4 separate regions of the Homo sapiens genome follow, and all the other regions are linked to region 1. The links come from fine-mapping of genetic effects on gene expression. A gene starts in region 1. Each other region holds a variant in brackets. All regions are shown on one strand. Distances are between the middles of the regions. Region 1 holds the start of CA12 (carbonic anhydrase 12). Region 2 overlaps DAPK2 (death associated protein kinase 2). Region 3 overlaps CA12 (carbonic anhydrase 12). Region 4 overlaps CA12 (carbonic anhydrase 12).

What was found. PIP is the estimated chance that this variant, and not a neighbour inherited with it, causes the effect.
Region 2: its variant is fine-mapped to the expression of CA12 in cerebral cortex (GTEx, PIP 0.99).
Region 3: its variant is fine-mapped to the expression of CA12 in esophagus mucosa (GTEx, PIP above 0.99).
Region 4: its variant is fine-mapped to the expression of CA12 in sun-exposed skin (GTEx, PIP above 0.99). The same link has a PIP of 0.9 or more in esophagus mucosa and unexposed skin.

Annotation. Positions count from the first base shown.
Region 1 is chr15:63,378,306-63,384,473 of GRCh38, forward strand. CA12 (carbonic anhydrase 12) reads right to left here and starts at 3,541. Exons shown (of 11, transcript NM_001218.5): 1 at 3,331-3,541. The coding sequence starts at 3,415. RefSeq lists enhancers at 3,225-3,745, 3,746-4,265.
Region 2 is chr15:63,979,085-63,985,252 of GRCh38, forward strand. DAPK2 (death associated protein kinase 2) reads right to left here. Exons shown (of 12, transcript NM_014326.5): 3 at 4,449-4,670. Among named protein-coding and RNA genes, the nearest start is that of DAPK2, 64 kb to the right of the region's middle. The variant C/T (reference allele first, on the strand shown) is at 3,192.
Region 3 is chr15:63,347,765-63,353,932 of GRCh38, forward strand. The region is part of intron 2 of CA12 (carbonic anhydrase 12); the gene reads right to left. Among named protein-coding and RNA genes, the nearest start is that of CA12, 31 kb to the right of the region's middle. The variant C/T (reference allele first, on the strand shown) is at 3,612.
Region 4 is chr15:63,336,632-63,342,799 of GRCh38, forward strand. CA12 (carbonic anhydrase 12) reads right to left here. Exons shown (of 11, transcript NM_001218.5): 5 at 5,371-5,466; 6 at 4,089-4,152; 7 at 3,657-3,814; 8 at 2,188-2,314. LOC124903506 (a long non-coding RNA gene) reads left to right here. Exons shown (of 3, transcript XR_007064676.1): 2 at 5,183-5,290. Among named protein-coding and RNA genes, the nearest start is that of CA12, 42 kb to the right of the region's middle. RefSeq lists an enhancer at 1,598-2,494. The variant C/T (reference allele first, on the strand shown) is at 2,339.

The sequences.
Region 1 (6,168 bases):
TGAACCCGGGAGGCGGAGGTTGCAGTGAGCTGAGATTGTGCCATTGCACTCCAGAATGGGTGACAGAGCGAGACTCTGTCTCAAAAAAAAAATTTCCCTAAGCTTAGACACATAAAGTTTTATATACAAGTCATTTCAGAAGGTCCACAGACTCCCCTGAAACCAGCTATGGGTGCATTGAGAGTTGAGGGTCCCAAGATCAACCTCCCTTGAATTAGTAATTAGACATTCAGAACCACGGGGAAACCAAACTTGTATGTGACCCCCAAGTTTACTGCTCACCCCTTTGCTGAAACAACAATGAAAAAAAATAAAGAAAGCATTGCTTTCAAACCAAGCTATAGAAGACATAAAACCTCTTCTGGACATTTTCTTCAGTCTTTTGTGTGAGAGGTTCATTATTAAGATGTAATCCCAGACCTTAGAGATATAATAAGCCAGATCATTACCTCTTAGCAGGCAGAACAGTTGGAGGCCCAGGATGTAAAATTCCACAAATAACAGAGGAGTTCACCCTTACTTTTCCCCTGAGGAGGCACAGGCCACTCCAGTGATCCTGGAGGCCACTAGAAACACATCTGCTGCCTGAGCACTGCTGCCTTGCCAGCAGTTTGCATTGTACCTGCTCACATTCAAATCATAGCCTTATACCCTACATCTTCTGCTACCCTCCCAGGGCTCGCTAATCAAGGTTTTCCCTGTTGTTGGAGTTCTCATCCTCAGATGAGGCCTCAGCATCACACTCTGGAAAGCTCAGGGCTAAAAGTCATAGAGTGGACATCTGGGACTGTGAGGTCGCGGTGGTGACATAGGACTGGGGACTTGTTGAAAGGCAGCAGCCTCCAGAGCAACATTCCCTGCCCTCCTCTCTGTGAGTGAGCTGGCTTGGGACTCCAGACTCGGCACTTTGGGTATAAATGGCAGTGTCTGGAGGGGCTCAGGAGCTGGAGGGCTGGGGAGAAGCGGCGTTGTAAGTGAGGATGGTGAGTCAAGGGGGTTCATCGGGTGAGGATCAGGGCCCCAGCTCAGCTCTGACCTCAGGAAGTCTCTCTAAAAGTGTGTGTATGTGTGCGTGTGTGTGTGTGCACGCGCACGAAAGTGTGCTTTATTCAGGAATTGCACCCCCTGGTTCCCCACTTCTAGCTGTAAGAACAGAAGGCTTAAAAGGATTAAACTGATTCCACAAGCGAGGCCAGGCCAAGGCCTCAGTGGCATCCTGAGGGAGCAGGCCCTTCCTGGAGGGGAATAGTTTCCTTCCCAAGGAAGGTTATCTGTTCCATCTGGGAAACCTGGGAGGCTCAGCCTGAAACCTGTTAGAACCTGCAGACCCAGCTGGTACTGGGCAGGGAGGTTCCCCTGGAGGGAATGCCCAGAGAAAATGGTATTTACCAAGATCCATATCAGAGGTCCTGGGCCCTGCCTGCTTCCTGTGCTGGGTGCTAGAACTTTCCCTGAGTAACCATCTCCTGGGTAGCCCAAGACTGCCTGGCTCTCCACACCAGGTTTGGGCAGGGCAAGCTCTGCAGAATTCACTGAAATGCCCCCCAAAGCCACGGCAACTAAGAATTCCAAGGGTTTCTCCAGAAGACACTTGACTTCACATTATTATGCTCCCTCCTGGGCCCCTGACATTGTTCTTGAACATTCTCCAATGCTGGAAGTTTAAATGCACCAGGCAGAGAGCAGATCACACTTTGACCCCATTACTCAGCTTAACTCCTCTCCACCTCCAACTTTGGGTTCATGCTGACATTCTACACCTCAGTGATTTTTGCTTTGACCTGTCCTCTAAGGCAGTTAAAAACCCAAGGAAACTGCATGAGAATTTACAGAATAAAAGCTGTGCTCTACCCAGGGGTAGGCAGTCTCCTTCCTCAGAGTGAGGCGAAAGTGGAGTTTTGACTACAAACTTCCCCAGTCCCAACTTGGAGAATTGGGAGAGGAGATAAGGAGGAGGGAAAGGGAGAGGGAAGAGGAAGAGCAGGGAAAGTAGGGAAGAAAGGAAGGGGAGGGAGGGAAGAGAACAGGGAAGGGCAGGAAAAGAGAGAGAAGGGAGGCAGAGCTGCCCCAGAGTGAGAGGAGCAACCAGCTATAGGAAAGAGGGCCAACTAATGGCTGTTTCTCCCTTTGGTCTTGGAGCAACTTAGGACTAAAGAGATTTCCAGGGAAACTTTGGTCTCAGTGCAGCTTTCGTAAAAGGAAACATGTAAAGTTTGTGGTTTTAAAACTTGATTTTCACTTTTACATCGCTCCTTTCTCCCAACTTCTGTTACATCGCTTCTGTTTCTCCCTGACCAGATGAGGGAGATAATATCAAGCACATCATGCCAGCTAGTTGACTGGAATTTAATTAAGAGTTATCCACAGCCTGGCTCCCCTGCCCTTCCCCATGGGCACTGTGACCTCCAAGAGAGGAGGCTCAGAGCTTTTATGCTGCTGAGCAGGACACATTTCCCACCACCACTGCCTCGCCAGGAAGAATCTAGTTTCAGCCAGTAAAATCACTTTCGGTCCAAAATCACTTTCTTATTCCAAAAGATTAATGAACCAGCCTTGGCTGTACACGTGTTAGCTCACTGGCCCGGCGTGAGCCCACAGTTCAGGTCCCCTCTGCCACCTCCTCCTGTCACTCCACGGAGCCTCCATTCAGTCCCTCAGCCTCCAGCCTTTTGGGATTTAGTGTTCTAATTACAATCAGAAATATGCTGTGTGTGTGTGTGTGTGTGTGTGTGTGGTTTGTGTGCGTGCGCGCGTGCGTGTGTGTGTGTACGTGCACACACACGTACATTCAGCATAGTAGAGCCCTCCTGGAGAAAAACAATGATTAAGAATGGGATGCATCATCCCTTTGACTTGTAGGTAAGACTTAATGGTAAAGATCCTCTCCTCCAAAGAAAAGCGCCTACCACTGTCTGCGGGTTCTGCACAGGGGCACAGCAAACCTTTCTCTGTGCTTACCCCAATCAGAATGCCACAGTCATGTCTCTACTTTCTAAACGTGGATCAGGGGAACGCTGTTTTAAATCTTGGCTTTGCATCTCCTCCCTGGTTAGCAAGTTCCCAAGCCACATCTTCAGAGCTGGCGGTGCCCGGGAGTACACGCAAACATTTTAACACCAAATCTGCGCCAAGCGCCACTAGAAAGCAACGTGCTTCCCGACCCAACCTCAGCAAAGGAAAACGGAGCATCCTTTCTTGAGAATCTACTATTTGGTACTACACCTTCCCTGCTCCCCGCAGCAATGATTTTACTTTATCATTGAAGAGCCTTCAGCCCAGGGGCGGCTGAGCGCTCAGGAGTGTTAGGAAAGAAGCAGGCGGAAACTTTACCGTTCACTGGGGCCGGGCTGGAAGGCTGTTCCTTTAAGATCACCAGCAGGAGCACGGCCGCCGCGTGCAGGCTGCGCCGGGGCATCTTCGCGGGCTCCTGCGGGGCGGGCGCGGGCTGTGCCGGGGGCTCCCGGTGGCCGCTCGCTCTCCAGCTGCACACCGGGACCGCGTGCGCGCAGCCTGGGTGCCGTGGCGAGTACGTCCGCCCTTCGCTCTCCTGGCTTCCCCGGGCAGCTTTTATGGAGCAACTCAACGCCAAACACTTGATGTCATCGTGCGGGGAGGGGGTGGGGGAGGAGAACGCCCTGCCCACCGGAGGGCTGGCGCCCCAGATCCTAGGTGAGTTGTAGCCTTGACTTCAGCAGCACTCTGCGGGTCCCCGGCGCTCCTCTGGGCCAGGGCTGACCCAGGAACACAGTTCTCCGAGGAGCTGCTGGCAGGCGTGGGTGAGATCCGCCTGTCTCACATCCAGAAGGGTGCGTCTAGGGATTCCTTCAGTGGCATGCCCTTGGTCTGTCACTGGTCCTGTAACAGCCCAACGAGTTCACCTTGCCCGCTGCTTAGACAGAGCCCATTTATCAAGACAGGGGAGTTGCAATGGAGAAAGTAATTCACGCAGAGCTTGCCGTGCCGGAGACCGGAGGTTTTCGTTCCTTTGTTTGTTTGTTTGAGACGGAGTCTCGCTCTGTTGCCCAGGCCGGAGTGCAATAGCGTGATCTCGGCTCACTGCAACCTCCGCCTCCCGGGTTCAAGCGATTCTCCTGCCTCAGCCTCCCGAGTAGCTGGGATTACAGGCACATGCCACCATGCCCAGATAATTTTTGTATTTTTAGTAGAGGCGGGGTTTCGCCAGTTTAAGGCTGGCCTTAAACTCCCGACCTCAGATAATTCACCTGCCTTGGCTTCCCAAAGTGCTGGGATTACAGGCGCCCACCACCACACCCGGCTAATTTTTCTAATTTTAGTAGAGACGGGGTTTCACCATGTTGGCCAGGCTGGTCTGGAACTCCTGACCTCAAATGATCCACCTACCTTGGCCTCCTAAAGTACTGGGATTCCAGTACTCAAATCAGTCTCCCCAAGCATTCCGGGAGTTGTTTGTTTGTTTGTTTGTTCAGACGGAGTCTCCCTCTGTCGCCCAGGCTGAAATGCAGTGGCATGGTCTTGGCTCACTGCAACCTCTGCCTCACGGGTTCAAGCGATTCTCCTGCCTCAGCCTCCTGGGTAGCTGGGATTACAGGCACGCGCCGCCACACCCAGCTAATTTTTGTATTTTTAGTAGAGACGGGGTTTCACCATGTTGGCCAGGCTGGTCTTGATCTCTTGATCTCGTGATCCACCTAAAGTGCTGGGATTACAGGCGTTGAACCACTGCACCCTGCCTCTGGGAGTTTTTAAAGATAATTTGGCAGATAGGGGCTTGGGACTTGGGGAGTGCTGATTGGTCAGGTTGCAGATGGGATCACAGGGGGGTTGAAGTAACGTTTTCTTGCAGTCTTCTGTTCCTGGGTGGGATCGCAGAACTGGTTGAGCCAGATCACACACGGTCTGAGTGGTGTCAGCTGATCCATCCAGTGCAGGGTCTGCAAAATAGGATGTTAGATTTTACAATAGCGATGTTATCCCCAGCAGCAACTTGGGAAGGTTCAGACTCTTGCAGCCTGACGCCGCAGGACCCCTAAACCATAATTTCTAATGTTGTAACTAATAGATTAATCGTACAAAGGCAGACTGGCACCCAGGCAAGAAGGGGGTCTTTTCGGGAAAGGGCTATTATTGATTTTGTTTCTGAGTCAAACCATAAACTGAATTCCTTTCTAAGGTTAGTTTGGCCTATGCCCAGGAATGAATAAGGACAGCATGAAAGTTAGAAGAAAGACTGAGTCATTTAGGTCTGATCTTTGTCACTGCCATAATTTCCTCAGTTATAATTTTTGCAAAGGCTGTTTCAGCCCTACTCAGAATCCCCCAAGTATAGTGCCATTTGGGCAAAAGCCTCCTTCATGCTTTTTTTTTTTTTTCTTCAGGTGCCTGCCTGGACTTAGCACAGGTTAAGGAACTGGACAAGATAGTTACATTCACATGAGTTTCTGCCAATTGTTCAGTGCATCCTGATTAAGTTCTTACCTTCCAAGTTGAGATGCAAAGAGATGAACTGAGAATAGGAGAACAGCACAGTGGGGTACACATGAAGAGCTTATCACAATTCCCCTTAGTAACGGGTAAGTAGATGGGACTCATGCTGGTTCAATACATCATTCCATCCTCACTAGGAAGCTGGGAGAGAGGGTCCCTCTTTTGGGGTGGCAGCAGAAGAAAGGGACTTACATTATTTACTGAGCACCCGTTGTGTGTCAGGCACTTTTTTGGGGGGCTTAGAACATGATACCCCAAAGTATGGCACCTTGGCATGCTGAGTACTTTGAACTGAAGGAAACTGAAAAGGCCTCAGAAACAAGGTCTCTCTGACCTTCTCCCATCCTCCTGTCTCCTGCCCCTTCTTCTCCCGCTAAGTGAATCATAGAAACCAGAATCCCTCTTCCCCAGGCAGGTCATAGAAAGTAGAGCCCCTCTCCTCCACAGCAAGCCATAAAATCTAGAAACATCACTCTCTCCCCTCTCCCTTCTCCTTTAAAGACCCTCATTCGAGAGGGGTCCTGCCCCATACCCAGGAGAAAGCAATGCTACACAGAGAGGTCAAGAAGAATTGGAACGGACAGGCCTTGCTGGGTTCCCCTCAGTCTATCACTATGAGATCACACCCTTCTCTCCAATCACATTTCTATACGGCCATCCATGTTCTTCATCAAACCTAAGCAGAAACACCGTTCTCCCTGA
Region 2 (6,168 bases), 600 kb after region 1:
TCCACAGGCTTGGAATCAAGGAGGCCCCAGAGCAGTCAGGGGCCTGTGATGGGAGGCCAGCCCAACCTTCACAGGGAGACTTACATTTTTCAGGGCTAGTTCCACATGTGACATGAGTTAAGCTGCTGAGATTTTGAATATATTCTATACCCCATACAGAAGTCAACTTATATGGACAATTAAATCCTTCCCAGTCCTGCCTTCAAGAGTCACGACCAGAGGCAGCTGCTTCTAGGGAGGTCACAGATGGGATAATAACAACTGAAAGGGATTTAGATCAGAGCCAGGCATGTCCTCCTAGTGCTGGCCACTTGAGCAGAAAGCAGGCGGAAGCCCTGCACCAGACAACAGTTGCTGAGAGGGGCAGTGGGATCAGCGTAGACTCATTCATAAAACCTGCAACTGGGCAGCTTTCAACTGAGTAGGTGGATACTAACACTTACTGGGCAAACCCACTAACCTATTAGGGCCCAGTGAGGACCACGAGGCCAAGACTTCTGACCAGCCTAACAGGAGTCACTAAGTCTAAGCAACAAAAGCCCATGAGGCTGGGTGCGGTGGCTCATGCCTGTAATCCTAGCACTTTGGGAGGCCAAGGCGAGTGGATCACTGGAGGCCAGGAGTTCAAGACCAGTCTGGCCAACAGAGTGAAACCCCACCTCTACTAAAAATACAAAAAAAATTAGCCAGGCATGGGGGCACATACTGGTAGTCCCAGCTACACAGGAGGCTAAGGCACAGGATCACTGGAACCCGGGAGGTAGAGATTGCAGTGAGCCGAGATCACGCCACTGCACTCCAGCCTGGGTGACAGAGCAAGACTCCATCTCAAAAAACAAACAAACAAACAAAAACAAAAGCCCAGGAACTCCTCTCCTGGGAGGTCCTCCCTCTCAGAACCTGGCCATACATGGGTTAGGGACAGTCTTGGAACGCTTGGGTCTTCTCCAATCTCATAAATTCTTAGCAGTCCATAGACAGGCACCCTGAGAACAATGAGACAGCTTGGAAGTGAAGGGGGAGACAGAAACGGGACAGAACTTAATAAGCACAGAGGCCCAAGCAAGTCATGGGAGCACCAGCGTGACAACTGATGTTACAGATGGTGCACCTGAGCTCACAAGAAGCCGGCACATAACTGGCTGACCATGAGCCCTGTTGGGAAAAACACAGACATCTCAAGAGCATTTACCTGCCACATCCCCGCCACCGACTCCTAGGGTTCTACAAACAGGAAGAAGCAGGCAATTTCCCCAGCAATTAAAGGCATGCCAATTATAGTAAGAAAGTATCAATTTATAGCTATAAAGATCAATAAATAATGAAACACGTTTCAAAACAAATGACCCAGGGCTGGCAGGGCTGCAGGCACACAGCAACACTCCTACGTTGTGGTAGTAATGGTTAACCAGCACCATCTTTGAAAAGTGAGGATATTGAGTCCCAAAAATGTCAGCCTTTGGCTTAGTCATCCCATTCCTGGGGATGTTAGCTAAATCCTCAGGACTTTGCTGAAAGAATTAATTAAAAAGAAAAGGAGAAAATCATGAGAAGAAAGTTGTTTTATCAGTAAAATTTGTAATGGTTAAAAGCTAGGAAATAAAAAGCATGTGTCCAACAATAAGGATGCTATGGTTTGACTATTTGTGCCCTACAAACTCGCATTGAAATTTAATTCCCAATGCGGCCGTATTAGGCAGTGGGACCTTTAAGACGTGATTGGGTCGGGGTGCGGTGGCTCACGCCTGTAATCCCAACGCTTTGGGAGGCCAAGGCAGGCGGATCATCTAAGGTCAGGAGTTCGAGACCAGCCTGGCCAACATGGAGAAACCCCATCTCTACTAAAAATACAAAAATTAGCTGGGTGTGGTGGTGGGTGCCTGTAATTCCAGCTACTTGGGAGGCTGAGGTAGGAGAATAGCTTGAACCCAGGAGGTGGAGATTGTAGTGAGCCAGGATCGCGTCATTGCACTCTAGCCTAGACGACAGAGCGAGACTCCATCTCAAAAAAAAAAAAAAAAGAGGTGATTGGGTTATGAGGGCTCTGTCCTTATGAATGGATTAATCCATTCATGCATTAGTGGATTAACAGGTTACATGGGTGGGACTGGTAGCTATATAAGAAGTGAGACCTGAGATATCCCACTCTGCCCCCTCACCGTGTGATGCACTGGGCTGCCTTGGGGGACTCTGTAGAGAGTCCCCATTAGCAAGAAGGTCCTAATCAAATGTGGCCCCTCAACCTTGGACTCCTCAGCCTCCATAACTGTAAGAAATAAATACCTTTTCCTTATAAATTAACCAGTTTCAGATATTCTATTATAAGCAATAGAAAATGGACTAAGACAAGGGAAATACTGGTATGCAATTCAGTGAAACATATAGTCAGTTAAAAGAGAAAAGCCAATTTTTAGAATTATGTTAATTGGGGAAAAAAGTAGAGCAGGAAATTATACAAGTACAATGATTGTATACAAATAGATAAAGATTGAGAGGAACCACAGAAAAACATAAATAGCTGTGTTTGGGTTGTAGGATTATAAATGTAATTTCTTGTCCATTCCTGCTTAGTTTTTTTTTTTTCCTCCCCATAATAAACTTTTTAAGAAGTGGCTCGGCCTTTCCAGAAAGGTGCACTTGTCACTCTCTGCTGGGAATCAGGATGCCGACTGCTGACCCTCAGCTTCTCTCTGGGTCACGCAGGGCAGGCATCCAGTAGTCCAACCAGCTGGGAGGCCCGTGGGAGAAACATGGAGGACACTGGGAGCTAGCGAAGGGAAGAGCACAGGCAATTCTATACATTTAAACACCGAGATGGATAATTTAAGAATCAAATGCAAGAGTATGCAAATGTCCATCTGCTACTTAAATCTATATCCTGCCAATACCAGAGCATAGTTCTCAAATTAGAATGATCTCAAATGTCAGGTGGTCCACCGAGTCTGTAGGCAGGTTAAGGATGGCTGCCTGCTTTACAGATGAGAACTAAAGCTCAGGGAATTGAGGTGACTTGCCCAAGGGCACAAAATCAGGGATTCCTGAGAGATTCTATCACTCCCGCTACCAGGCAGGTGTATACATGCTTATGAGCCTCAGAATATTCTTTTTTTTTTTTTTTTTTTTTCCGAGATGGAGTCTTGCTGTCACCCAGGCTGGAGTGCAGTGATGCAATCTCGGCTTACTGCAACCTC[C/T]GCCTCCCGGGTTCAAGCAATTCTACTGCTTCAGCCTCCCGAGTAGCTGGGATTACAGACACCTGCCACCACACCCGGCTAATTTTTGTATTTTCAGTAGAGATGGGGTTTCACCATGTTAGCCAGGCTGGTCTCAAACTCCGACCTTGTGATCTGCCCGCCTTGGCCTCCCAAAGTGCTAGGATTACAGGCATGAGCCACTGCACCAGGCCAGAACATTCTTTATATAGTCCTTGCTGCTTGACTGGACACAGCCACTGTAACTTGTCCACAACCCAACTCAAACTCTATTGTTTATCAGAGCCCCACCTGCCCAGGACGATACCAGCGTGGCTAGCCAAACCCTAGAGTATTGAGGTCATCTATCCAAATTCCATCATGAACTGTGAGGTCTTCCTCTGCTAAGCCAGCATAAGGCCAACCCGCCTCACACTCATAGCTGTCTGCACAGGCCGTGTGGACTCAAGTCCTGGTCCTGCCACTTCCTGGCTATAGGCTCCTGTAAGTGTCCTGGCCTCTCAGTGTTCTTGTCTGTAAAATGGGGATAATAAGAGTGTCTGTGTGACAGCGTTGTTATGAGGATTAAATAAGGTACAGAAGTACTTGGCTTGCACAATGAATACAAAATAACCTGTCTGCACTAGTAAGACATTTCCCTCATCACAGTCTTTAAAGATTGAACAAGACGACAGATAGAAAGCGCCTAGCAAATTCTTGGCTTACAGTAGGACTCTCTAAATAATAGCTATTATTATAACAATAAAGGTGTCATTCACAGCACAAATGCAGTGGACTTTCCCCAGGAAAGGGCTGGAGAAGGGCTTCGCAGAGCCCAGAGATGTTTGTACTTCCCCTCCTCATAGTACACAGCCCTCGCTGACAGCCTCCCCTGGCCCCACCCCACCATCTGTCCCACTCACCCTCCCACATGCTTCTCCAGCCAGGAAAAGACCCCAGTGCAGTCATTTCTTCCCTTTGATCTCCAGGATCCAGTGAAAGCCAGACTTAGGCCATTGCCCTCTGCCCCTGCTATTCAGCAAGCTTGCCCCTCCTTTGGCTCAGTTTCAGGAGGAGGAAGCGGGTAAGGAGGAAGGGGGTAACTGAGACAGAGGGGATCTGCCCACCACTGACTTCACCTCCTCTGGGCTGAGCTTAGGCCTGGTTGCTGCTGCCCCCTGGGGCCTGTGGCTGGAGTTTCCACTGCTCTGCCTGCCCCTGCTGCCCCCCAACCCTGTGGGTCCTGGGGACCCCACTCACAGCTCAAGGATGAGCACCACGTCGGTGCGGTTCTCATAGACGTCGTGCAGCGTGATGACATTGTGGTGCAGCACCTGCCGCAGGATGCTCACCTCCCGCTCGATCTCCTCCCGGCTCACACCGCGCCGGCTCGCCCGGCTCTGCCGCTTCTTGATGAACTTGGCTGCATACTCAAGCCCCGTGCTCTTCTCCCGGCACTTCTTCACGATGGCAAACTGGCCACTGTGGGGACACAGACCCACAAGATTAGGTCATCACTGTGGTCATTGGGGAAATGACCCCACTGTCAGCTACCAGGTCACACAAATTCAGAGTGATTCTGCCAGGACAGGACAAATCATGCCACCAGTCTGCATCCCCACCTGATGACAACCTGTGGATGAGATGGGGCAGGGACTGGGCTTCCCTTCTGTCCATTCCTTCTATGAGGAATGAATGTTAGTATTCTTAGTCCCAGTGTACAGAGGTGAGCACTGAGGCCCAGAAAGGTTATTGATCAGGATGACATAGCCTTGTCATTGCAAAATCTCAGCTAGAACCCAAGTCTAGGACCCACCAGATGAAATCACAATGTCCATAAGCAGACTGGGCTGGTGGGGATCCAGGTTTGGGTAGAGTTTGGAGAGGAGGCAGCCTAACAAGGTTAATCATCATAGTGGGGGAGCATCACAGTCAGAGGACTTGGTATAAACAGAGAGTTGTACAATTAGGAAACTGAGGCATAAGGATAGGTCATGTGACTCGCCTGAGGTCATCGCAGAGTTAATGGCAAAGCCAAGCCTCAAAGTCAGATACCCAACCGGCTGTCCACAAAGCCTCTGAGATAGTTAGAGCAGTCTAGACCATTATTATTCCCCTTCAGGCACTAGTACCCAGGGCTGGGCTCAGAAACCCATTACTCCAGGGACAGAGACAGCAAGCATGAAATGGAGTCCATGGCAGAGTGGCAGGCAGCCCTGAGCCAGCTTCCCTGAGTGCTCCAGGGGCCCTCCCCACAGGGAAGGGCACCAACCACCTGCTTCTGCACCTCAGTTCAGTGACCAGCAGGAGCAGATCTAAGTCCTCAGAGACTTCCCAGTGACCATCTTGCCCGGGGGTCCTCCCGTCCCCTTACTGCCATTTGCCATCATTGCCCCATGTTTTCTTGCCACCCAAAATACCCACTGCTTGAGTAACTCAGAAAGTTTTCTGGTTCAGCTTAATGGCTCAATAAGGGGCCAGCAGACTCCAGACTTAAGAGGTACACTCTTAGTGGCTCTGGGTTAAAAGCTACATACAGGGAAATGCCTGGGATATTTGCCCCAAATGCAGAAAATAGCAAAATAGCACTGCATCTGAACCACTCCATCATTAGCATCATCCTCAGTGAGACAGTCTTCAAAATACCCGGAGTGGCAATAACAACAACAAAGTCAAGTTCAGCAAGCAACAGATACATAGGCCAACACTTAGGTAGCATTCTATGGCAGCCACTTCAGAGACGTTCCCAAACACAAACTCATGCATCTCTCCATTGCCTTAATCTCCATTCAATCAACACTGTCTGGGCATCCAGTCTGTGCCAGGATCTGTGCTAGGCACTACGGGGCAGGGACCAAAGGCACAGACAACAGGTACAGATGGAGCTCTAGGGAAAGAGAAGATCCTGGGGGCTGGACTGGGCAGAGAAGGCTTTGTGGAGCCAAATTTATCTTACATCGTCCACTGACTCTAAATTTTT
Region 3 (6,168 bases), 31 kb before region 1:
ATGGCTCGTTAGGGTAGACCCAGGGTGTCCTGTGGGCTCTATCAGAGCTGGGGATCAAGCTTTGCCATCTGGGGGTCCGTTCATCAGTATTTCAACACAAGGAAGGTGGGTAAATAGAGAAAAGGGGAAAGGAACACCACCTCTTCTGGGAATTCTTCTGTAGACCCCTGCACTGTTTCACAAGGGTGTAAATGTTATATTGGCCCCACAGAATCCCAACCCCCTACATCGTGCTCTCTAACTAGGGGACCGTATCTGAGAGTGGGAAGAATCCGAAGTGATACTTGGTACCCAGGTTCATTTCAAATGCTATGAGGCGTTGGTCCCAGGCTTAGTTAGTTCTTACTTCTAGGTCCGGACACACACATCGGAACCCTACTGATTTTTCAGGCTGTCAACCTTAGGCTATGCATTTTCAGAAATGTTACAGCATGACGGAATTGCAGAATCTCCAGTCCAACCTTTCACTGGACACCAGTCTTCTCACTTGGGCATGGCAGAGTCTCCGCTGAGCTCTACTATTCTTATTTTCAAGGCCTCAAAATAACTCAACTACACCAAGATGGTGACTAGGGAAGAGGGAGGCTGGAGGATATCAAAGCAGGCACTCCAGGGCCAAACTGGAGTAAGACAATTATTCAGCTGGGGGCCAAACCGAATGCTTTAGGGGCAGCGGGGAGCAGAATGAAGCAACCGTGAGGCCTCATGTAGAACCCCAGGGTCAGGAAGAGACACAGCACAGGGTAAGACTCCCTAAGTGAGGCTGCCAGCCTTTTCTGTGCTCACAATACTGCCTGGGCCCACAGCCAGCAGGGCGGAAGCTGCCAGCCAGGCATGAATGCAAAAAACTCAGGAAGTAAAGAGATGCATCATTGAGAAGCTTTCTCTTTGCACACATGACTAAAGGGAACTGGATTAGAAGGGTTTTCTTTTCCCACAGTGGAGGTTCAAAAAGGTTTCATCAAGAGGGCATTTTACTGATAGCTAAACGAGAGCCTCGTGAAGATAGGGACCCCTCATCTTCGTCTCTGTGAACCCATATTATAAGTAGGGTCACGTGCCCCCATGGGCATTTAGGAAACATTTTCCCAAAGAGTGAAAAAGAACAGAGGGCTTGGGAAAATGTGACTTGGGGAATGTTTCCTTTTTCTCTTGCTCTAAATACGCTTTATTGGAAGTTAGGACCAAATAAGGTATTTGGGGGGCAGGAAAGACTAAGGATATTAAAGGCAGTAGAGTTGGTGTTGGCAAAACCTGTCTTGGAAAGAGAAGCAGCTATGTTGGACCAGGGGAGTCCAGAGAATGAGATTCCAGCATCAGCTGTCCCAACACTTCAGTGGGTTATGTTCCCTGCTGGAGCCTCCATTGCCCTTCGTGCAAATGGTGGGGGTGGTGGGCGTAGTGGTGGGGATGGGATGTGTGTGGAAGCTATGTTCTGGAAGGTTCCTTCTGGCTCTTAAGCTCTGATATTTATTAAGAATACTAGGACTAAGCACCTTCTCCATCTGTCAGGCAAATTTGAATGAGTCAGAAAGGTTGCTCATGTCAAGGCAGCTACTGGGCATGTGACAAGGTGCCCAGGGGAACCAGCTTCGGGAATGAGGGCACAGGGCACCGGTGCTCCAGGACTGGCTGGGATCAGACAGCCATCTGCATCAGGAACCTGCCCTGGTCCTGGCTGCCATCCACAGCGGAGTTCGTCCTTGGGCACCAGTCACAGGTCTGTAGGTCAGCAAGGTCAAGAAAGCCTTGTCTTCGCCTCCTCCTCCTCCTCCTCATTGTTATTATATTGTAGTAGCTTTGATCCTTATAACTCTATAACCTTACGGGGTAAGCAAGGCAGAATTGCACCATTTTATGGGTGAAAAATAGAGATTTAAGAGATTTGCCGGAAGTTTGACTTTGGCTAAGTAACAGTTACTTTGCTTGGGTCACAGGACTTATGTGTCCTTCAGTATTTATCCAGGAGATTTTGTGCACCTGGAATTTCCTGGCTTCCCCACGCTGTCCTTGAAGACAAGGACCACGGCTCATCCATCGCTGCACTTCCCACAGTGCCTGGCACAGAGTGGGCCCTCACATGTTTACTAAGCTGAACTCTCAACACCTGTTTCATGCTTGTTCCTTTCCCAGGGAACGTGCACCCACCTTAATTCCCTCATGTATTTCTTCTCCTCAAAAAAGAGGAGGAAAAATGAGATCACTTGCTCAGGTTCAAAATGTACCCTCCTAGCTTTCTAGCTTACCTGTGTGCAAATGGTTTCTGTTTGGGGGCACTAATTGAAAAAGAAATCTGATTTCTGCCCTGTAGCCTGGGAGACGGCCTGCCAAGGAAGTTCATAGGGCCCTCCCCCAGCATGTAATGGCTAGTGGGTGTCCCCGCCTTGCATAGCTGGGGACACTGTCAGAGCAGCCTCCTGTCTTTGTGGCATGTGAGAGATAGAGGTGCCATGAGGGTGGGCACCGGGACAACCAATATCAGAGGTGACAACAGCAGGCCTTTCTGTTCCCTGAGCTGTGACATGTGACTGCACAGTGCTGGCCTTATGCTGGCCGCTACACCCTGGGCTACCATTTTCCAACTCAGTGTCAGCTTTCACACTCATGCCAAGTGCTCCACTGCCAGAAATCCTCCACTGGGAGTGACTCTCCTAAAAGAAGCATTTATTTCCAGCTAAAACTTTGCCTTTGCTCTTCTGAGTTTTGACTTCGCCTCTCCAGTTGGTTGGACTCCTCCCATGATCGTGATACAGGAGGATCACGTGTCTTTCACAGTTTGTTTTTCTAAATAAAGCCAAGGCATTATTTCTTTCCTGTCTATGTGTTTTTCCTGCTCTAGGCAAAACAGAAGTGGTCAGAATTCCTGTTTCGAAAGGTAACAAGAGATTAACATGGCACAGCTCAAAATGCCTCTCGTGATTTCTGATTGGGAATTTTGAGGCCCAGGGTGTAGGACCTGCATTATCCAAGGACCAGAATGTTTTTACAGAAAATTTCAAATGTATACAATGTAGAGAGAGGAGTGGAATGAACCCCATGTCACCCAGCTTGGACAGTTTACAATTCAGAAACAGTCCTGCCTCATCTATGCTAAGCCCATTCTCCCCTTATCTACCTGGATAACTGGAAACAAATCCAGATATATTTCATCTGTATATATTTCATATGTTTCTCTAAAACATAAGGGCTCTTAAAACCACAGTACCATGACCACACCTAGAGAGTTAAGAATTAATACCTTAAGATTACCGAATCCAATTAGAATTCAAATTTTTCCAAATAGGTCATAAATTTTTAACAGTTTGTAAATTTCAGGGTTCACATACAGTCCATATATTTTTTGCAATATTGCAATTAGAGGATGTGTTATGGCCTAGATTACAGCTTGATGGTGGAATGCCTCATCAGAGAACACCTGGGCCCCGCTCCTCCAAGGCTCAACATCTCAGAGCCAGCTTGGTCTATCCTTTGCCCTTAGTGGGTCATGGACTCCCATGCTTCCATGGGTTAGGCCCTCGCCATGTCACACTGCAAAGGCTTCCCACAGGCAACCAGCCCCAGCCTTCCTTGTTACACTGCCAGGCTGGCTCTCCTGCAGTAACCAGATCAAT[C/T]TTGTCATAGCCTGGCTTGGGTGGCACCACCCCACCACCCATCCGTACACTCCCTTTCTCCCTAGCATGCCCTGCCCCACCCCAACAAGACAAAGCACAGCCTAGCTGTTTTTCATGGCCTTGAAGTGCCCCAACCTGTCAAAGTCTTCAAAGGCCCCCACATCCCGCCCCAGCCTGCCCCATGCTTCAGCCAGCTCCCTGAGCCTAAGAACAGGCTATGCCAACCCACCTTCACAAATGCCGTTATGAAAAAATCTGCTCAAATGCCCTCTTCTTTCCTCTGCACCTTTCCAAATTTCGTCCACTCTTCAAAGTCCAGCTCAGGTCCTGCCAAAGCTACCCCAGTGCTTTCTAGTCCCTGACTTGAACTTCTCGGCCAGCCTACTCGGGTTGTGCACACTAGCAAGCAGTGATGATTGTTAGCCTGCCTCACCTGTGACTGTTAGAGCCAGACTAGTACAGAAACTTATTACAGACTAGAGCTCAGAATATGAGTTTCAAAGACCTTTGGAAGACCAGAACTTTATGTCATATCCCTACTTATGTCTGAACACATCCTTGAATGGATGTGGAGGGTTTTTTTAAGCTCATTTCAGAAATTTAGCCATAAAGGGATGAGAGAAGGGTGTATGCGTGGTGGTTATGGTAAGGTGAGGGTAATGTGAAAGATTTTGTTTTTTGTTTCTGTTTTTGTTTTTGAGACTGAGTCTTGCTCTGTCACCAAGGCTGGAGTGCAGTGGTGCAATCTCAGCTCACTGCAACCTCCGCCTCCCAGGTTCAAGCAATTCTTCTGCCTCAGCCTCCCAAGTAGCTGGGATTACAGGTGCGTGCCTCCACGCCCAGCTAATTTTTTATATTTTTAGTCGACATGGGGTTTCGCCATGTTGGCCAGGCTGGTCTCAGACTCCTGACCTAAAGCGATCCACCTGCCTTGGCCTCCCAAAGTGCTGGGAATACAGGCGCGAGCCACCGCACCCAGCCTGTGTTTTTGTTTTTTATGAAGAGGCTTGAGCAAACTGCTATGCAGACGGCAAAAGAGACCAGAGAAGGAAGGTTGGAGACAGAAGAAAGAGGGGCTCACTGATGAAAGGTAGCCATGAGAAGACAGTGGGGGGATCCAGGCACCAGAGTCAACATTAATTCTGCCCCATGACACTTCTTGGAGGTCATACTCTGAGGTGGACCCCCCTGTGTCTGTGTCAGTGCTCACTGCAGGCAGCTTCCTGGAGAACCTGCCTGGGCCCAAGCTCCAGGGTACATCTCTTTGGGCCGGCTACCAACACGCAGTCAGATCAAAACTTGCCCCAAAGGATACCACTGTAGTGGCAAAGTTTACACATTCTAGATGATGACACGCCCTTTTTCAACAAATAGGCACAATTTCAGGACAATGATAGCTTTTGGTTAGTCCCTCAAAGTTTGTTTTGTAAGGAGGTCTGACCATAATGAAAGGCATGTGTATCTATATGAAAATGATCAAAAATTATGTACCAAATTTGAATACACATTTAATAAGATGGATTGTATTTGCAATAAAAAACGAGTACTCAAATGTTGAATGAAGGAGAAAAATCTCTAAATGCTCTCCTTCTTGGAGTGCAATTTAATTTTGGAGTTAATGCATTCATTTCTTCAACAAATGTGTCTAGTATGTGTCAGGCACTGTACTAGGTGCTGAAGATGCAATGGAGAACAAAACAGCTCTAGTCTCTGACCTTGCGGCACTCACAGACCAGTGTAAGAGACTGATAATAAATAACAAGTAAACCAATGCACAAGGAAATAATTGCAATCTGCAATGAGCGCTGCAAAGGAATTAAACGAGGGCTGCAACAGAAAAATGGAGGGATCCCTGTCAAGCAGATGATGCAGGCAGGCTTCCCAGAGGAGGCGCCGTTAAAGCTGAGATTTAAAGGACAAGTAGAACCAACCATGAGTGAAACGTGAGGAATGGCGTTCACTAGAGAGGGCCCAGCAAGCTCAGAGGCCCCGCTGCAGTGGAGAGGCTGGTATATTCTAGGGATGTGTGATGCATTGACTCAGAAAGAGTCTGGGATCCATCCGGCCTCCCTTTGCCAGGTCTGGGTCCTGCCCTGTGCCAAGGCTGAGCTAGGATCATTTGACACCTGCTTGTGTACATTCCTCCATCTGTTAGAAAGGTCTTCCTGTTGGGAGGCTAGTACCTGCCTCTCTCTGGGGGTCATCCAACAGTCCCGCTCTTGTGGCTAGAGCCACAGAGAACACAGCTAAGCCACAGGACTCAGAGGGGACCGCAGACTTCATGTCCCCTCTAAATCCATCTGGAAACCAGACATCCTCAGGATGGTGTCTGCATGTAAAAGCCATTTTTTTAAAGAGATGGGGTCTTGCTATATTGCCCAGGCTGGTCTCAGACTCCTGGGCTGAAATGATCCTCCTGCCTCAGCCTCCCAAAGTGCTGGGATTATAGATGTGAGCCACTGCACCCAGCCTAGAAGCTACATTTTAAAAACATGTTTAAAATATATTTATAGGTCCTGCAGTTCACTTCTGAAGCTGATTAAAATATCTATGTCTT
Region 4 (6,168 bases), 42 kb before region 1:
CCTCCACCTCCCGGGTTCAAGCGATTCTCCTGCCTCAGCTTCCTGAGTAGCTGGGATTACCTGGCATTTTGTGGCTGAGGAAACCAAGGCCTGAAGAAGGGACACGATTTGTCCACAGCCTGCAGCCAGGAGGAAGCAAAGCCAGGCCTTGAACCTAGGCCTCCTGACTGTAAGGAGAATATGTGCCACCCCTTCCCTGGGTGTGCATAGGTGAGCTCAGAGAACAGAGCCGGCAATGGGGTCCTGGGATCGCGAGCAAAATTCTATCTGATCTATGTGGGCAAAGTTCCTAATCTCCTGGCAGAGTTTTTATGTTTTTGGTTTTAAGAGTTGAAGTAGTTCCATTTAACCCTTGGATACTACATTCTCCACTTAGAAGAATGAGAAAAGACAGCGTTGTATCCATAACAGATACATTCCATGCACTCAGTTCATTTCCTAGAAAAGAAACTGTTAGTTATCATCACATGGATTTTGAATTTTCAGGAAGGCTACTGTTCACAGATTCTGTTTTCCAACTGAGAAACTGAGGAAAGAGGGAAATGATCTTAATTAGTTGTACCTGGAGAGGAGAAAACACAAAAGACAAATTCTTGGGCAGTTCTTCATGAAAAGACAGAGAATGATGTAATCCTGACCGTAAGGATGGGTCAGTTTCTAAAGCTTCCTGGAAAGGGCCTTCAAATACAGTCTCCATATGTTCAACTAAGTTTAGGAGGTGATCGTTATAACCTCATATAATAAGAAAGGAACCCAAAAAAGTGCACCAGGTGAGACGAGGAGAGCAGATTCTGACAAGTGGGTTAACGGGTTTCTTTTGTTTTTGTTTTTTGGTTTTTTTTTGAGACGGAGTCTCGCCCTGTCACCCAGGCTAGAGTGCAGTGGTGTGATCTCGGCTCATTGCAACCTCTGCCTCCTGGGTTCAAGCGATTCTCCTGCCTCAGCCTCTTGAGTAGCTGGGATTACAGGCATGTGCCACCACGCCCGGCTAATTTTTGTATTTTTAGTAGAGACGTGGTTTCACCATGTTGGTCCGGCTGGTCTCGAAATCCTGACCTCATGATCCACCCACCTCGGCCTCCCAAAGGAGGCAAGACACCGTGCCCGGCTAATTTTTGTATTTTTAGTAGAGATGGGGTTTCACCATGTTGGTCAGGCTGGACTTGAACTCCTGACCTCAGGTGATCCGCTTGCCTTGGCCTCCCAAAGTGCTGGGATTGCAGGTGAGAACGGGTTATCTTTAAATATGAACGCCAGGCCCGGTTTGGTCCACACGTGATGCTGGGGATGAAATGGAACTGCACAGACCAGCCATGAAGATTCCCAAGCTGGGAAGCAGTCGAGAATCTACAGTAAGAAAGTGAGCTTGAAAGTGAACTCAGAGGTCTGAAGAGGGGTGTGGGCCCCAAAAGTGCTCCCTCACCCCTTTCCCCTGATGCCCAGTTTCCAGCAGTGTTGATGTAGGCACTGAGCAAGGAAAACGGTTAATGTTCTACTGGGGAGTTATTGGTTACAGCTGTGAAAGGGAGACCCGAGCCCTTGTAGCATTAGGAAGAAACCAAGCTATTAAGTTTTGTTCAATTGGGAACTTATGTGCTTGTGCTTATGCAAGCTCCAAGGAGGTTAGACAAAAATGCAGTGCACAAGGGTGCTTCCTTGCCTAACAGGCCCTGCTACATTAGACATGGTTGTGGGTTACACTCACTGTTTTACATCTAACATAGGAACATTCTTGCTCATTTGGTGGTGGTGCATGAATCACCTGGCCAGGCCTAAGATAGGCTGGCTGCAGCCTTTGATGCCAAGAAAGCCTAGGGAGGGAAGTTAGAAGTCTGATCTCATGGAAAGGGTCCTATCCTGTGTCTTAGAGAAGGGATCATTGTCTGGAACAGAGAAGTCCCCAGGGAATTCTCTCTTACCCATCTGTGCAAGACTCCCAGGCTTAAAGAGTGCTCTGGTCCATGTGCCTGGGGGCCTCGGCTTTTTGCTTCTCTGCAAAGACTCACTGAAGGGGGGACCCCAGTGAGCCCCACACCTAGTCTCACAAGGCGCCTGGTTCCCGTGGCAGCCAGGGAGCTCTCAGCCAACTTCTTGAGGGCATCAGTGCCAGAGCTGCATTCACAGAAGATCCCAATGTCTTGGCACCACACTCCCGCACCCCCTCCCCCCAGCACTGCCTCTCCTCACCTTGGGAGAAGGAGGTGTATACCAGCCTCTCATCGAACTTCTGGACCTGCCGGAAGTTGTTGATCATTTCTCTGGGGGAAGGGTCGTCCATGTGTGTGCAGTACAGGGCTGTCTCCAAAGCCAGCAGCTGAGGGCAAGAGCAGAAATAGCC[C/T]GCAGGCAGAATGACCTCCTCACCTGATCCCCTGGGAAGAGGCTAGCTCTCCGCTCTTGCACCTGGGAGAAGCCTCTGGAACCAGCTTCTGTGGGGCCGGGTGGGAGATATTAGAAAGCAGAGGGAAAGCCACAGAACTGCTTCCCTCCACAGTGGGTGAGTGGGAGCTGGGCAGCGCTGGGTTTATCTTCCCAGCACCCGAGACTTCAGGGAAAGGCAGTGCTGTTAGTTTCCAATTATACCTGGAATCTGCCCTGCGTGGAGGGAAACCTGGGGTGATGGAGTGCTCCTTAACCTCCACAGAGACTGAGTTCCTCTCATGAACTTAAATTAGAGGCCAGCTCTCAACCAGAGGGTCGCAGGGCTTGTTCTGATGGTCATATCAGAAGGAATAAAGGAGGGAGTTAAGAGTTTCACAGGCCATCTGATTGCGGGTTCCATGGCATTTTCATGCACCTGCATAGATTATATAACCCTTTCCCAAGGCAGTTTCTGAGGTAGGATGTTGCTGCTTCCCCACATGTTTCATCCATCTCTTGGTTCATCATGTCCTCATTCCTGTCCACCCACCTGCTGCCATTTACCAGGTGACTCAGAGCAGAAGCTTACTGTAAAGAGGAGCAGCTGTGAGGCTGCCCTGGACGCATGAAGCTGGCGTGGGGCTGTGAGCCAGGGTGTAGTGCTGGCCCCAGCCCCGTCTCCTGGGGAGCCATTTTTCTTCTCATGAATTTAGGCTGTGGAGGACAGGTATGAGCAGTGACATGGAACTCAGATGACCTAACTTTGGGTCTCAGCTTTGTCACTAACCCGCGGGTGATCCCACAGACTTCTACTCTTCTCTCTCATCTCCTATCAAATAAGAAGCTTTAGAGGTGATGGCTAAGGATTTTGTTCCCCAGTTTGCACTAGACCTTGAGCTTCTTGGGGGCAGGGACCCTCACTTAGTCATTGCTGCAATCCCATCTCTTAAATGATTTCATCTGATCCTGTCTTTATTCTGCCCTGTAAAGGAACCAGGCTCTCTCCTGCCTGGGAAGTGAATACCACCCAGCCACTGAGGATATATTAGCAAATGCAGATTTAGAGCTCTTTTTTTTAAAAAAGAACTAGGAGACATCTATTCATTTGCCTAGCTTGACTTCTTTTGAAGCTCAGCCTGGAATTTCTGCGGTGCTTTCAGACACCTGTGATATTTGGAGAGGTTTTGAAGAGCTGCCAATGAAACTAAATGAGGAAATCAAGTCATTGATTGTGATATGGAGGATGATGGGGACTGAGGTGCCGCGTGGACTCTGGCTGAGTCTGGCACGACAGTTACCTGCTCCTGGGAAATTTGCACGGGGTTTCGGAAAACTGTCCAGAGCACAGTGGGGTTGCAAGGGGGTGTGGTCAGGGACCCCCGGTAGCGGTAATATTCAGCGGTCCTCTCCGGAAGCAGCTCTTCAATGTTGAATCCCGGGACGAATGCTTCCTGGCCTAGAGAGACATGTTGCAGAGGTGATAGTGTCAGCCTCCCTCCGTAGGGCATAAGTGCAGCTGAACAGAGCGACTGAGCCTAGAAACATGAACTAGCCCCTTTCAGGGTCATCTAACCCCAGGACCTGGTTGCAACATTGTTCAACAACCTGCTGCTCTTAACCTGGTGAACACAGACAGCACCTGCCCCTTGTGTTTGCTTTTCTTAAAGTCACACAGGGCTGACTACCTCCTTCTCCAGCAGAGAGTGAATATGCATGCAAGGACCCCTCACCTTTGTACTTTACATGTTGAAGGTGACTGAAGATCTTGTCATAGGACGGATTGAAGGAGCCCATCTGCAACAGAGACAGGGCAGGTTAAACTGGGACAGAACAGGATAGGCTGAGCCAGGATTGACGATTGCTATCAGAAGGGCAAAGCTGTGGGTATGTTGCCACCACTGCCTGAAGGATCCACTTTACTGGACAATTATGATGGATCACTAGGCTCTTGGGAGTTAGTGTAATGGTCCTGCCTCTTGCATCTCAGGACGTCCTGTTTTCAGCTTAAGGAGTTGGGCTTGAATGTCCTGGGGCATAGGGTACCGTGTGTGCTCTTGATGATCCAGATATGAGCCTGAAGGCTTTGACTAACATCCATGTCACACAGAACTTAAGGAGCTCTGAGTTCACAAAAGCCACGTCAGACAAATGAGCATGTTGGGAAATGAGGTACATACAGCCTCATTAGGAAAAAAAAACATGCAAGCCAATCAGAAGACATTCCTCTATCTTGGGATAAAAAAAGAATTCATTCCAGGGTACATATAGAGCAGGGGTGCCCAGCCCCCAGGCTGTGGACCAGTACCGGTCTGTGGCCTGTTAGGAACTGGGCCGCACAGCAGGAGGTGAGCAGCGGGCAAGCAAGCATTACAGCCTGAGCTCCGCCCCCTGTCAAATCAGCAGAGGCCTCCCATTCTCATAGGAGCACAAGCCCTATTGTGAACTGCGCATGCAAGGGATCTAGGCTGTGTATTCCTTACGGAATCTAACTAATGCTTGATGATCTGAGGTGGAACAGTTTCATCCCAAAACCATCTCCCTCCCTGGTCCATGGTCCGTGGAAAAATTGTCTTCTATGAAACTGGTCCCTGGTGCCAAAAAGGTTGGGGACCACTGATCTAGAGGTCCCTTGGATCTAGAGGAGCTTGGATGGCAGGAGTTGTATCAAGAGTTCAGGCATCTGATGGGGCAGATGGAGTTTGATGATCCCTTTCCAGCACAGGTCCTCCCCAACTGGGCAATTCCATGCCTTATGCAACAGGGCTAGATGTTGGGGCCCGTTTTTCCAACGGACCAAAGAACATTCCCCATTTCTGCTGCCCAGGCACAGAAAGTGCTGCCTCCAGGCCAAGAGAGAAGGTGCACTACAGGAGGATACCCCCTGCTCTGGAGTTGACACGGAGTCGATACAGGAACAGCTGATTATCAACAGGTATGCATGGAACAAAAGGTGGAATCCCAATCTCATCCCTGCTTCAAATTTCACCTAAGAACCTTTTAAATATCTCTTACCTCAATGAGAACAGCCAGGACAGCGAGGCCTTCTGACTTGTTGCTGGCAGTGCTGGCGTCAGGATAAAGGTCTGAGTTATAATGGACAATGTGCAGCTGCAGTGGGGGAGAAGCCACCCATTAGGAGATAAGCGACTCATGGGAGCCTGTCGCTTCTGCAGAAGACTTGACTCCAACTGTGAGGACAGAACCCCAGCCCCCTCAGCCCCCCAGACTAGGTTAGGTCTCTCAGACCCTCCCCTTATTTTGCCAAGGATAAGGACATGTGCCCAAGGTGGTCAGGGCATGGCTTGTTTTGATACATTTTAGAGACATAATACATCAATCAATACGTACAAGATACACTGGTTTGATCTGGAAGGGCAGGAAAACTCAAATTGGAGGCTTCCAGGACATAGGTAGATTTAACTTTTTTCTGACTGGCAATCGGTTGAGAGTTATCATCAATAGAAAGGAATGTCTGGGTTCCAATAAGGGGTTGTAGAGACCAAGATTTTATCATGCAGAGGAAGAATACAAGTAGCAGGCTTCAGAGAGAATAGACTGTAAATATTTCTGATCAGACCTAAGGTCTGTGTTGATGTTAATGAATGTGGGCTTTTCCTAAATTCCAAAAGGGAGGAGGGTATAATGGGTCATGTCCAACTCCCTCTTCCCATCATGGCCTGAACTAGTTTTCATGTTAACTTTGGAATGCCCTTGGTCAAGAGGAGAGGTCCATTCAGATGGCAGGTGGGTGGGGTGGGGGGCTTAGAATTTATTTTTGGTTTACACAACCCATGCATTTTTGCTGGTTCT